Linked DNA regions of Homo sapiens. The protein of the gene in region 1 purifies or fractionates together with the protein of each later gene. This does not show direct contact. Each region holds a gene or a part of one and is shown on either strand. Other genes may lie near its edges.

The links. Proteins that work in one complex are often made in the same cells at the same time.
Region 2: the proteins of SPNS3 (region 1) and CLCC1 purify together in Homo sapiens (affinity purification with mass spectrometry; 4 studies listed by BioGRID and IntAct, with this or other methods). This does not show direct contact.

Annotation. Positions count from the first base shown.
Region 1 is NC_000017.11:4,436,938-4,443,964, forward strand, and holds part of SPNS3 (protein spinster homolog 3), read left to right. Parts: intron 1-2,720; coding exon 2,721-2,786; intron 2,787-7,027. UniProt on the Homo sapiens protein: Sphingolipid transporter.
Region 2 is NC_000001.11:108,960,485-108,967,395, reverse strand, and holds the start of CLCC1 (chloride channel CLIC-like protein 1 isoform 1 precursor), read left to right. Parts: upstream 1-3,911; 5' UTR 3,912-4,035; intron 4,036-4,926; 5' UTR 4,927-5,087; intron 5,088-6,911. UniProt on the Homo sapiens protein: Anion-selective channel with Ca(2+)-dependent and voltage-independent gating. Permeable to small monovalent anions with selectivity for bromide > chloride > nitrate > fluoride.

The sequences.
Region 1 (7,027 bases):
GGGGACCCGCTATCTCTGCCGCTAGCCCTGGAGGTCCCTGGCTGGGCCCTAAGACCCTGAGTCTTGCCTGTCCAGGTCCCTTCTCCATCAGCACTTCCTCTGTATGTGCAAGAAAGGGGGCTGTGGTTACTGTGGGGATAGAGACCTGGAGAAGTGAAACCGTGCTGAGCATCTGGGAACTGGTGGGGGTAAACAGCTAAAATGTTCTTGCAGGAAACAGCTCTTATGGGGCCAGGGTGGTAGGCTACAGATGAAAGCAAGGGTGGGTGCACGCTTGGCTCTGGATCACCTCTAGAGTACCATGGGGCTGAGAGGAGCCCAGGAGGAGAGAAAACAAGGGGATGAGTCCTCATTCCTGAAAATGGAAGATGGGCACAATTTGGAGCATTTTCGTTTAGCTATTTATTTTGCTTACCTGTGTTGTCTCCTTTTTTTCTTTCCAATGACTGTCTTCTTTGTGTATTTAAAATAATAAAAGGGGGACTTTGAGAGGCCGAGGCAGGTGGATCACCTGAGATCAGGAGTTCGAGACCAGACTGGCCAAAATGGTGAAACCCCGTCTCTACTAAAAATACAAAAATTAGCCAGGCGTGATGGCGGGCACCTGTAATCCCAGCTACTTGGGAGGCCGAGGCAGGAAAATTGCCTGAACCCAGGAGGCAGAGGTTGCAGTGAGCTGAGATCGTGTCACTGCACTTCAGCCTGGATGAAATAGTGAGATTCAGTCTCAAAAATAAATAAATAAAATAAAAATAAAAAACAAAATATTAAAAGGGGAAAAAGACATAACAGTTTGTATGCCAGGTTGCAGTGGCAATTGGGGACAAATTAAATGTCTAAACAAAGATTTCTTTTTTTTTTTTTTTGGAGACGGAGTCTCACTCTGTCGCCCAGGCTGGAGTGCAGTGGCATGATCTCAGCTCACTGCAACCTCCGCCTCCCAGGTTCAAGCGATTCTCCTGCCTCAGCCTCCTGAGTAGCTGGGACTACAGGCCTGTGCCACAACATCTGGCTAATTTTTTGTATTTTTAAATAGAGATGGGATTTCACTGTGTTAGCCACGATGGTCTTGATCTCCTGACCTCAAGATCTGCCGGCCTCGGCCTCCCAAAGTGCTGGGATTACAGGCGTGAGCCACCACGTCCCTCCCTGAGCAAGGATTTTTTGCTTTGCTCCTCTGATCCCTTGATCTTCATGTGCATGGGGCAGCTCTTAGAGGTGTGCACGCAGGGCTTTCTTGGTGTGGGTGTTTCTGCGGGGACCCACTTGGGGGCTTCTGCTCCCCTTCTGTGGTTCTGGGTGTGTGGACAGGCTGCCTCTGGCTGAGATTTGAGCCCCAGCTCCCCCAGCTTCAGACGGGCAACCTTGGGCCGCTAAAGCCTCTGTTTCCTCATCTGTAGAATGGGGGCAATGACAGTCCCCCTCTTTTAGGATGACAACTGCGAGTGTACAGCTCAGGGCCTGGCTGTCAGTCACCTCCTGACTGATGAAAGTGAGGATTGTTCTTCTTCATAATAATGACAGGGCCAGAGCCGCATGGCTCACGTGAGCAGGTGCTGCAGACCCCGACCCTTTCTAGGACACCAAGAGGCTATCAGGAAACAGACCCTGGTGTCTGGGAGACCCACTTTCTCTCTCTACATTAGGCTGGGTGCCCACTGCTGTGCCTCTGGAAGAACAGGCTTGTGTGTGCACATGCGTGCAAGCCAGGACACGTTCGTCTTTTTATGTACATGTTCACCTATGCATTTCCAGTGTTTGTGCATGAGCGAGGCCACTGTGCTGTACAGCTCCAGGGACTTCCGTTTACACAGTGGCCTAAGTAAAGGGCTGTGCACTGAGCAGCGACAGGGGGCTGCCGCTCCTCTGACTGCAGTGTGGATGGCAGCCCTGAGCCTGTGCATACGCGGGCAGGCCTCTGGGTGCACATCTCACTGCACATGTGTCTGTGTGTCTGGGTGTATGAGTGAGGCTGGGTGTACATGTCTGTGAGAGTGAGTTCCTGTGTGTGTGTGTGTGTGTGTGTGTATTTGTGCCTCTGCAGGTGTGTTTCTCTGGGAATGCCTGTTTGTATCTATATCTGTGTTCCCATATGAAGAGGAGGGAAGGAGCCGTGTGGCTGCGTGCTTATGTGTCAGTGTGTGTGTGTGAATGTCTGTGCCTTTGGGATGCTTCTTTCTTTCTTTTTCTTTCTTTTTTTTTTGAGATGGAGCGTGGCTCTTGTTGCCCAGGCTGGAGTGCAATGGCGCGATCTCGGCTCACTGCAACCTCCACCTCCCAGGCTCAAGCAATTCTCCTGCCTCAGCCTCCCGAGTAGCTGGGATTACAGGCGCCCGCCACCACGTCCGGCTAATTTTTTGTACTTTTAGTAGAGACGGGGTTTCACCACGTTGACCATGGCTGGTCTCAAGCTCCTGACCTCAGGTGATCCGCCAGCCTTGGCCTCCCAAACTGCTGAGATTACAGGCGTGAGCCACCGTGCCCAGCCAAGGGATGCTTGTTTCTTTGAGTGTTTGAAATGCACACGTTTCTCTGTGTGCCTGCTCTTGTGTGTGTGGTTGTACAGCTGTATGGGAGAGAGGGGGAGAGAACAGTGGGCTTGGGTGCCATGCCCTGTGCTGTGCTGGTCAGCTGTGGCCCTGTGCCAAACCTGGAGCAGCTGCCTTTAGAGGCCAGGAGGGCTACTTCCCGTTTCCTGAGCACTGTCCCTCTGTCTGCAGGAGTGCTGCTGGATATACAGGAGGTTTTCCAGATCAGTGACAACCATGCTGGTTTGCTTCAGACTGGTAAGGAGGAGCCCTGGCTCTGGAGCCGGGGCCCTGGGTTCATGCTGGGGTGGGCTCTTTCTGTGGGTCATGTTCTGTGCCCAGCTCCAGCCCCACTGGGTCCCCTGGCACAGAGGGTGGGTGGGGTATGGGCCTGAGGGACAGTCTAGGCAGGAGCAGGAGAGAGCCTGGGCTGGAACAGCCATGGTAGTTTGAGTGTAGGGTGCCGCGGGAGAGCAGGGGGAGGTGGGGCTGGGAGAGGTCCCTCAGCCTCAGGTCCTCGCTGTGGAGCTGGCCATTCCTTCCCTTCGTGTTGGTGAGGCTCAGCGGTGCACCAGAGGCTTGCTGGGCTTTGAGAAATCCTGATGTGTGCTTTCCTCTCACAGAACTGAAAAATCTGACTACTGGGACACACAAAGTCAAACAGACAGACACAGACAGGCACATCCCCCCACATGGGCTCAGATGGACTCTGGGCCCACAGACAGCCTGACACCCAGCAGCAGGGAGCAGCCACACGTCCCATCGCAACATCAGAGCGGTTGGGGTCATGAGGCGTTAGCTTTTCCCTTGTGGGTGCCTGGATGGTGACACACACCCACAGTGTGCATATCCACACACCCACATGTGCACACACATGGTCACAACACGTGATACGCCTGTGCACACACCCAGGCTGTAACCAGCAGGCACCGAGGGTCCTCACAGTCCATCATCTCAGGGCTTTAGAACATGGCTCTTAAACCGGGGTACAGGGATCCCTGGGGATACACAGTCACTTTCCAGGGGTTACATGAACACAGAGAGTTTTGAGAGACTGATTTATTTCTAGATTCTCAAGCCTGTATGTTTTTTTCCTAAAATGACCTGCCTGAGGGGGAGCCTGTGGTCGGCCTGTGGTTCTCCTTCCTCTCCTTCCATTGTACAATTCCCTGTCTACCATGGTAAACAGAAAGGGACTCCTCTCCGCATCCTGGATGTGCTGCTCCTGGGTGTAAAAACCTCTGGGGTATCAAACAGAGGCCCCTGCGTGGATGCTCGGCTTTTCCCAGGGGGACCTTGGGAGCAAAGCAGAGAGCATCAAGAGAAACGTGCTGGGGAGATTTGCCCCAGGCTACAAGCGCAGGCAAGGAGCCAAGCCTTATCTAGCTGTTCCCGTGTGCAGTGTCTACTATTTATCTACAAATTAGAATTCAAAGTGAGATAGCGGTCTCAGGGATGCATGTCAACACATTTCTTTCAATGAAAGAAAATGAAGCCAACATTTTTCTTATAATCAGTTTGACGTCTAATTGCTTTGGCAAAAGAGGACAGGCATTATTACTTAGATTCTACTGTAGACATTTCCCATAAACTGAATAAACTCAACCCTGTAGCTCCAAGAGTTTGGATGAAAATACAGTTTAAAAAAATACACAACAACGCTGGAAATCCCATCCTTGGCAACGATTCAAACTTGGGATAAGAACATTTTAATGTTAGCTGAAAATGTGTGGAGGAGTACATAGTTCTAGAAACTTCTTTAAGAGTGACATGAGAGCCAGGTGCAGTGGCTCACGCCTGTAATCCCAGCTCTTAGGGAGGCAGAGGCGGGAGAATAGCTTGAGCCCAGGAGTTCGAGACCTGCTTGGGCAATATAGTGAGACCCTATTCTCCACAGAAAGGAAAAAAAAAAGACAAAAGAGTTACGTGAGCAACAGTTAGAAGATCATGGCTTTAGAACATGCATGGTTTCCAATTGCCCCTCAATCTTGTGGCCAAGAGACAGCAGCTGATGCTGATCTTCCAGCCATATCTGTGGCCAAAGTGAGACCATCTTGGTTCAACACCCACAACCTTCTCGATTAAATAGATAATGGTGGTTTAGTCAACATTTCCCTTCACTGGTTCTTTTTTTTTCCTTTTTTTCTTGAGACGGAGTTTTGCTCTTATTGCTCAGGCTGGAGTGCAATGGCATGATCTCGGCTCACTGCAACCTCTGACTCCTGGGTTCAAGTGATTCTCCTGCCTCAGCCTCCCAAGTAGCTGGAATTACAGGCACCTGCCATCATGCCAGGCTGATTTTTGTACTTTTAATAGAGATGGTGGGGGTGTGTTGGGGGGGGTCTCACCATGTTGGCCAGGCTGGTCTCGAACTCCTGACCTCAAGTGGTCCACCAGCCTTGACCTCCCAAAGTGTTGAGATTACAGACGTGAGCCACCACACTGGCCCTTACCATAGTATGGTTCTTACCGTAGTGGTCAAGATTATTACTACAAGTCCTGGGCCACGGAGGGAGAAGTGTGTGTGTGTGTGTGTGTGTGTGTGTGTGTGTTTGGCAGTAGGTGAAGAGAAAGGTCATCTTTGCAGAAGCAGCTCAAAAATTTCATGAAAGGACAGTGGGCTTAGAGGCCTGATGACCAGGCTGGTCTCTGGTGGCCTCAGGTGAGTCTCTTTACCTTTTCCGGTTACCGTGCTATGGCCCTAGACCCAGCCTGTTGTCTGTCCACAGGGCTGCTGAGAAGAGGAAACTGATGACTGAGAGAGAGGGTGTTGAAGAGATAGAGGGGTTGGGCTGGGCACGGTGGCTCACGCCTGTAATCCCAGCACTTTGGGAGGCTGGGTGGATCACCTGAGGTCGGGAGTTTGAGACCAGCCTGGCCAACATGGTGAAACCTCGTCTCTACTAAAAATACAAAAATTAGCCAGGTGTGGTGGCAGGTGCCTGGAATCCCAGCTACTTGGGAGGCTGAGGCAGGAGAATCACTTGAACCCAGAAGGCAGGGGTTGCAGTGAGCTGAGATCGTGCCACTGCACTCCAGACTGGGCCACAGAGCAAGACTGTCTCAAAAAAAAAACAAAAAAAGAGAAGAGGAGTGGAAAGTGAGAAGAGGCAGTGGTCAGGCTCCCTCCAGCCACCCATGGGATAGAGAAGCTGCTGGAGTGAGTTCATTAATTAATAATATTTAAAACTAACACTGACTTGGCCCTTACCACATGTCAGGCACGATTCTAAGTGCTTTAAATATCAACTTATTTAATCTTCACGACAATCCCACCAGGCAGGTTTTACTATTATGTCCATTTTACAGATGATGAAACTGAGGCTCAGAGAAGTTATGAGACTTGCTGAAGCTGGGATTTGAATCCAGGAAGTGTGCCTCCAGAGTCTGTCTTTTAACTCTGGGAGCATTCATTTCACCCACTGTGTCACAGAAATGATTTGAATTAGGAGACCTTGGGAATGAGGAGTGTCTGTTTTCCCCTTGGGAAGGGCATCTGCAGATTCACAGAGCGTCTGCAGGTTTAAGGCACTTAAAACAGCCTGCAAGTGATCCCTGCATGTGAGGAATATGAGGATATATACATATTTGTTGTTGTTTGTTTGCTTTTTGTTTTTTTTTTTGAGAGAGACTCTCGCTCTGTCACACAGGCTGGAGTGCAGTGGTGCGATCTCAGCTCACTGCAACCTCCACCTCCCAGGTTCAAGCAATTCTTCTCCCTCAGCCTCCCCAGTAGCTGGGATTACAGGCGCCCGCCACCATGCTCAGCTAACTTCTGTATTTTTAGTAGAGATGGGATTTTACCATGTTGGCCCGGCTGGTCTCGAACTCCTGACCTCGGGTGATCCACCGGCCTTGGCTTCCCAAAGTGCTGGGATTACAGGCGTGAGCCACCGCGTCCAGCTGGGAAATAGTTTTATAACTTTTGGATAAAGAAGATATGCATAAACAAGATATGAAATAACACTTGCCCCTCCAGAAGGTTAATAAATTTGACTACAAAGCTAAACACTTCCGTATGATGGTGATTGAAATTATGCAATCAGTAATAATAATAGATAACATTTATTGGACATTTACATGAAGCTATGCAGATAACTTTTATGTGCTTTATTTTACTTAATTCTCTCAGTAACCAAACAAGGGAATAGCACTGTTGATGAAAGGGGAACACGAAGAGTTAAGGAATCTACCAAAGGTCACATAGCTAGAAAGTGGTGAGCCAGGATTTAAACCCAGCCAACTTAGTCCCAGAAGTTGCGTTTCTAATTCTTAAAACAAATATAAAAGACTATGGGAACTTATTTCCAAAACATATTAACAAACAACAGCCCAATAGAAAAATGGACAGTGGGCCGGGCACAGTGGCCCACGCCTGTAACCCCAGCACTTTAGGAGGCCGAGGTGGGCGGATCCCTTGAGCCCAGGAGTTCGAGACCAGCCTGCACAAGATGGTGAAACCCCGTCTGTGCAAAAACTACAAAAATTAGCCAGGTGTG
Region 2 (6,911 bases), on another chromosome or scaffold:
ACCCTGACCACCTTGGGCACATGTTCTCAGGACCCCGAGGGCTGTATCACGGGCCATGGTCACTCATATTTGGCTCAGAATAAATCTCTTCAAATATTTTACAGAGTTTGACTCTTTTAGTCAACAATGGTGCAACCCTGTCTTAAAAAAAAAAAAAAAAAAAAGATCAGCCGGCTGTGGTGGCATGTGCCTGTAATCTCAGCTACTCGAGAGGCTGAGGCAGGAGAATCGCTTGAATGCGGGAGGTGGAGGTTGCAGTGAGTCAAGATTGTGCCACTGCACTCCAGCCTGGGCGACAGAGCAAGACTCCCTCTCAAAATAATAAGCACCAGAAATTGTTATATTTGCTTCAGTAAATAGCTGGTTACATATGTCCTTTTTTGTTTGTCTCCACATGTCTTCTGCATGGGGTGACTAGGTTCTTTGAGGTTCACATAAAAGAGAAAATGAGAGGACTGAAGTATCTATACTCTTGGGGTCCATCTCATTTGGCAGTGCAAGGAAGGGGAATTGGGGTGGATGGGTAGTGCAGAGGTTCTTAATTATTCCCAGGGAGGACATTTAGAGGTCTGTTCCAATTTTATGTGTGTGTGTGTGTGTGTGTGTGTGTGTGTGTGTGTGTGTGTGTTGCCTCAAGTTGAGAGATTATTTCTATTTTTAAAATGTTTAATTTTTCTATTGCATTGTGTTATATTGACAAAGTCTTGCTCACTATAGCCTAGAACTCCTGTGCTCAAATGATCCTCCTGCCTCACTCAGCCTCCCGAGTAGCTAGGACTACAGGCACATGCCACAATGTGGGGCTAATTTTTTTTATAGAGATGGGTGTCTCACTATGTTGCCTAGGCTGGTCTCAAACTCCTGGCCTCTTAACAGTCCTCCCATCTTGGTCACCCAAAATGCTAGCATTACAGGCATGAGACACCACATCTGCCCCCAAATTTTATTTTTAAAATGTTTACTTTTCCAAAATTGTAATGTCGACGGAGTCAAACTCTGTAAAATATTTGAAGAGATTTATTCTGAGCCAAATTTAAGTGACCATGGCCCATGACATAGCCTCAGGAGATCCTGAGAAGATGTGCCCAAGGTGTTTGGGCTACAGCATGGTTTTATATACATTTTAGGGAGCGTAAGACATCAATCAATACATGTTAAATATACATTGGTTCAGTTCAGAAAGATGGGACAACTCAGAGGTGGGGGTGGGGGGATGGACCTGCTGTCACATTGGTATCTTACTGCTACAAAGTGTGTCAGTGTTAAGGTCTCTGTTTTTTTTTTTTTTCCTGAGACAGAGTCTCGCTTTGTCACCCAGGCTGGAGTGCAATGGCATGATCTCAGCTCACTGCAACACCCACCTTCCAGGTTCAAGCGATTCTCCTGCCTCAGCCTCCCAAGTAGCTGGCATTACGGGCCCACCGCTTTGCCTGCCTAATTTTTGTGATTTTACTAGAGACAGGGTTTCACCATGTTGGCCAGGCTGGTCTTGAACTCCTGCCCTTAAGTGATTCACCTGCCTTGGCATCCCAAAGGGCTGAGATTACAGGCATGAGCCACTGCAACTGGCCTCAGGTTTACTTTAGAATGCCCTTGGCTGAGAGGATGGGCCTATTCAGTTGGTTGGGGGGCTTAGAATTTTATTTTCGTTTTATAGTAAGAAGCCAAAGGACACAACAGAGTGAAAAGGCAACCCACTAAGAGGGAGAAGATGGGGCCGGGCATGGTGGCTCATGCCTGTAATCCCAACACTTTGGAAGGCTGTGGCAGGAGGATCACTTGAACCCAGGAGTTTGACACCAGCCTGGGCAATACAGGGAGACCCTGTCTCTAAAAAAAAAAAGAAAAGAAAAAGTGGGAGAAGATATTTGCAAATCCTATCTGATAAGGTGGTTAATATCCAGAATATATAAGGAACCAAAACACAACAAAAACCCATTAAAAAATGGGCAAAGCCAGGAGTTCAAGGCTGCAGTGGGCCATGATCATGACACTGCACTTCAGCCTGGGTGACAAAGCGAGACCCTGTCTCTTAACAAAACAAAATAAAACAAACAAAACAAATGGGTAAAGGACTTGAATAGACATTTCTCCAACAAACATATACAAATGGCATGACCAATAAGCACAAGAAAAGATGCTCAACATCACTGGTCATTAGCGAAAGGCAAATCAAGACCACAGTGAGATACCTCACACCTATTAAGATGGCTACTATACAAAAATAAAAAGATGTCAGTGGAGATGTGGGGAAATTGGAACTTGTGCACTCTTGGAGGGAATGTAAAATGTTGCAGCCACTATGGAAAAGAGAATGGCAGTTCCGCCGGGCGCAGTGGCTCATGCGTGTAATCCCAGCACTTTGGCAGGTCGAGGTGGGTGGATAACGAGGTCAGGAGTTCGAGACCAGCCTGGTCAACATAGTGAAACCCCATCTCTACTAAAAATACAAAAATTAGCCAGGCATGGTGGCAAACGCCTGTAGTCACAGCTACTCAAGAGGCTGAGGCAGGAGAATCGCTTGAACCCGGGAGGCAGAGGTTGTGGTGAGCCGAGATCGTACCACTGCACTCCAGCCTGGGCAACAAGAGTGAAACTCCATCTCAAAAAAAAAAAAAGTACGGCAGATCCTCAAAAAATTAAAAATAGAATTACTACATAATCCAGCAATTCCACTTGTGTATATATATTCAGGAGTTGAAAGCAACAGATATTTGAACATCTGTGTGTATACCCAAAAGGGTTAAAAAACAGATATTTGTATATCCATGTTTACAGTATTATTTCACAGTAGCCAAAAGTGGAAACAACCTGTTATCCATTAACAGATGACTGAATGAACTGGTATATACATAAAATGGAATACTATTCAGCCTTAAAAGAAATTCTGACACGTTACCACATGGATGAACCTTGAGGACATTATGGTAAGTGAAATCAGTTACAAAAAGACAAATGCTGTATGAGTCCTTATATGAAATACCTAGAGTAGTCAAATTCATAAAGACAGAAAGAATGGTAGTCGCTGGGAAGGAGGGAGGGGAAGAATGAGGCGTTACCACTTACTGGGTACAGAGTTTCAGTTTTGCAAGATGAGTGCTGGAGATGGATGGTGGTAATGGTTGCATAACAATGTGAATGTATCTAATACCACTGAATTGTACCTTTAAAAATGGTTAAGATAGTAAATTTTACCATCTTCACAGTTTCCCGAGATTGCAAGGCCAGCAGTTAAAGACAAAAACAAAACTACTTCCAACTGCCCTACAGTGTGCAGACCTTTCCCTTGTCCTGCCCTGAGTAGAACTACAGTTGTCATTCGTGATCCTCCCTTTAAAAAATTATGCTTGTGGCTAGGCGCGGTGGCTTACACCTGTAATCCCAGCATTTTGGGAGGCCGAGGCGGGCGGATCACCTGAGGTCAGGAGTTCGAGACCAGCCTAGCCAACATGGTGAAACCCTGTCTCTGCTAAAAATACACATTAGCTGGATGTGGTGGTGCGCGCTTGTAGTCCCAGCTGCTCGGGAGGCTGAGAGAGGAGAATTGCTTGAACCCGGGAGGCAGAGGTTGCAGTGAGCCGAGCCGAGATCGCGCCACTGCACTCCAGCCTGGGCAACACTGTGAGACTCTGCCTCAAAAAAAAAAAAATCATGCTTGCGTTTCATGGCGAATGTTACACATTCAAACTTATCAAATATATTAATAGTAAGAAAATAGGTTTCCTATCCGTTGTATATATTTGAGTTCCAGGCGAGATTTCCTTCGCAGAAAGAGTTCCGCAGATGAAAAGTAAAAGAAAATCCGCGGCGAAAATAACCCGCGCGCAGAGGCCGGTCCCGCTACTAGCCCCGCCCAATCAACGAGGCCAATCAGCGGCCCGCAACGGGGGAGGGACACGCAGCCGTCAGCCGAACAATTCGATGACGAGGCCCAGGAAGCACGCTGAAACCCTGGGCGGCGGCAAGCTGTGCGACCTCTTCTGCGGCCGGCCTGGGCAGGTGTCTTCCTCGAGAGGCAGGCAGGGGATCCCGGACGTGAGTCCGTGCAGTTGGGTGTGTTGTGCGGCGGGTGGGGCGGGTTACCCGCCGTTACGCCCTGGCGGGTCCAGCGGACTCGCGGCGCAGACGCTGGGGAGGCCGCAGGCGCGACCCGGGGCGGGGACCGTGCTAGCTGCGTGCGTCCGCTGCGGCCTGTGGGTGCCCCGGGCTCCTACCTCAGCTCCCGCGCCGGCGGCTGCCTGTCCGCCGCGGTTGCGCGCGTTCCGGGGAGGTGCTTGGCCCAGAGAGCGGCCTACGGAGAAGGCACAGCGAGGGCAAAGCGAGACCTGAGCGCACGTTGAATTCTGTTGGCTTTGGTTATCTCTGAAAACTTTAAGCATAATTTGAATAAATGCTGTCAGCAGAATAGCTCGGATTTAGTTGTAGTTAATTTTCTAAAACTTCAAATCTGTGAATTAACACAGTTAACAACAACAACAAAAACGGACACAAAACAACCTCCAAAATGGATTTTTTTTTTTTTTTTGAGACGGAGTCTTGCTGTGTCACCCAGGCTGGAGTGCGGTGGTGCTATCTCCGCTCACGGCAACCTCCGCCTTCCGGGTTCCAGCGATTCTCCTGCCTCAGCCACCTGAGTAGATGGGACCACAGGTGCGCGCCACCAGGCCCGGCTAATTTGTAAATTTTATTTGTAGAGAAGGGGTCTCCCTGTGTTGTCCAGGCTTGTCTCTGACTCCTGGGCTCAAAGGATCTTCCCATCTTGGCCTCCCAAAGTGCTGGGATTACAAGCGTGAGCCATTGCGCCTGGCTCCAAATCTGATTTGAGTGTAAAAAGTTAGACACACCATAAGCTGTAGGTTTATTACTGGGTGGTGAAAAACAATTCAGGTTTTCTTTATAATAGTGATTATGAAGTGTTCTTCCCAGACTAGCTTTATCGTCATCTGGGAAATTGTTAAAAATGCAAATTCGCAAGTTTGAGAGCCATGGTTCCAAGAAACTGCATAAGCATACGAAATAAGTTGCAGCCTCCCGACTTATACCCTGGTACTTCTAGTCTAAAACAGGATTTGACTCTACTAATCCAGGTTAGTCTTGCCTTTCCCATTACTCATGTGCTTTCGTTGAAACCAAAGACTTTTTCTTTTGTGCCCATTTCTACTCACTGCCTGGCCGTCTGCACGACGATCTGTGTTTCCTGGTAGTTCTCCAGTCTAGTAGCTACTATAAACTACTCTCCCTATTTCCCGCTCTGTGGAGATGTCGTTCCAACAGGTCCTCTCCACTCTAAGACCCTATCCTCTCAGAGAAGCCCCTGAGAGCCATTAGTACTTTTGCCCTGGAGAGGCAGTTTAGGTAGAGCCAGTCTGGGTTCTACCACTTACTAGCTTGGTGGTCTTAGGCAAGTTACTTTGTGTGATCTGTAAAATGAAGATGAGTGAAGATAAGAGTACTACTTCCAGTAGTTTTGTGAGGATTAAATTAATGTAACAGTGCTTAGCACATAGTAACAAAATATTAGCTACTTTTTTTTTTTTAGACGGAGTTTTGCTCTTGTTGCCCAGGCTGGAGTGCAATGGCGCGATCTCGGCTCACCGCAACCTGCACTCTCTGGGTTCAAGCAATTCTCCTGCCCCAGCCTCCCGAGTAGCTGGGATTACAGGCATGCGCCACCACGCCCTGCTACTTTTGTATTTTTAGTAGAGACAGGGTTTCTCCATGGTGGTCAGGCTGGGCTGGAGCTCCCAACCTCAGGTGATGCGCCCGCCTTGGCCTCCCAAGGTGCTGGGATTACAAGCGTGAGCCACCGTGCCCGGCCTTTAGCTACTATTATACATATTATAATTTAAAAATTATTAGTACCGAAGCCTGAGACAGGAGAGAAATGGTAAAAATAGTAGGGACTGCGGGAGAGAGAAAGAGTAGTGTCCCCTGACAAGTACTAGAATGACATAGGTGCCACCATTAAACGAAACTAGCTAGGATGGTTACTTTCGATTAACACTTTGCTACTCAAGAGTGTGGTCTGCGGCATCACCAGGAGCTTGTTAGAAGTGGAGATCTCAGACCTACCTCAGATTTACTGAATCAGAATCGTTTTTTTTTTTTTTTAACAAACTCTTCAGCAGGTTTAGATGTAGCTTTGTTTGGAGGAAGTGTGAGATTCGTTTTAGGATTTCTCAAGGAGTTCCAGCCTTCAATCAGTGACCATGGGGATCTGGCAGGAGGGCTTGAATTTCTAGCTGATTCTTCTATTCTGTCTTACCCTCCTGTCTTCCATCATTTCTGCATTGCTAATCTCTATCCCTGGAGAAATCTATGGAACTGCTGGTTATTACTGTAGAAAGTAACATAGTTGCCAATAGTACGACTTTGTGGATGTCACAGTCAAAACTCAACTGCCTGGCTGGCACAGTGGCTCACCTGTAATCCCAGCACTTTGGGAAGACAAGGCGGCGGGCAGGGGGATCCTTTGAGCTCAGGAGTTCGGGACTAGCCTGGGCAACATAGCAAGACCCTGTCTCTATAAAAAAGAAAAAAAAATCTCAACTGCTTGACAGGCTTTTTATTCACTTCCCTTTGTATAATGCCTCCTGTAGTACCTTTTTTCCCCTCCAAATCTCCGTTTCCCCCATCCTAACCTCCTCACAGTGTTAGAAATGCAAATTACTCTTAATTTCTCTGTCCACTTCATATCATATTATAATATGAAATCTGTCAGTTTCTCTTTTTACTTTAGAAATTTTGTCTTCATCCATCTTCATTCATTTCTATTTATGGAGTATATAACCTCATTGCCTATGAAGAACCCTTCCCGTAACCTTAATTTCATGCACTCCCATCTTGGAGCCTCTCTCCAGTTTACACACTCCCTTTGTCACCTACTTCTTAACCACTTAGAGAATTAGGCT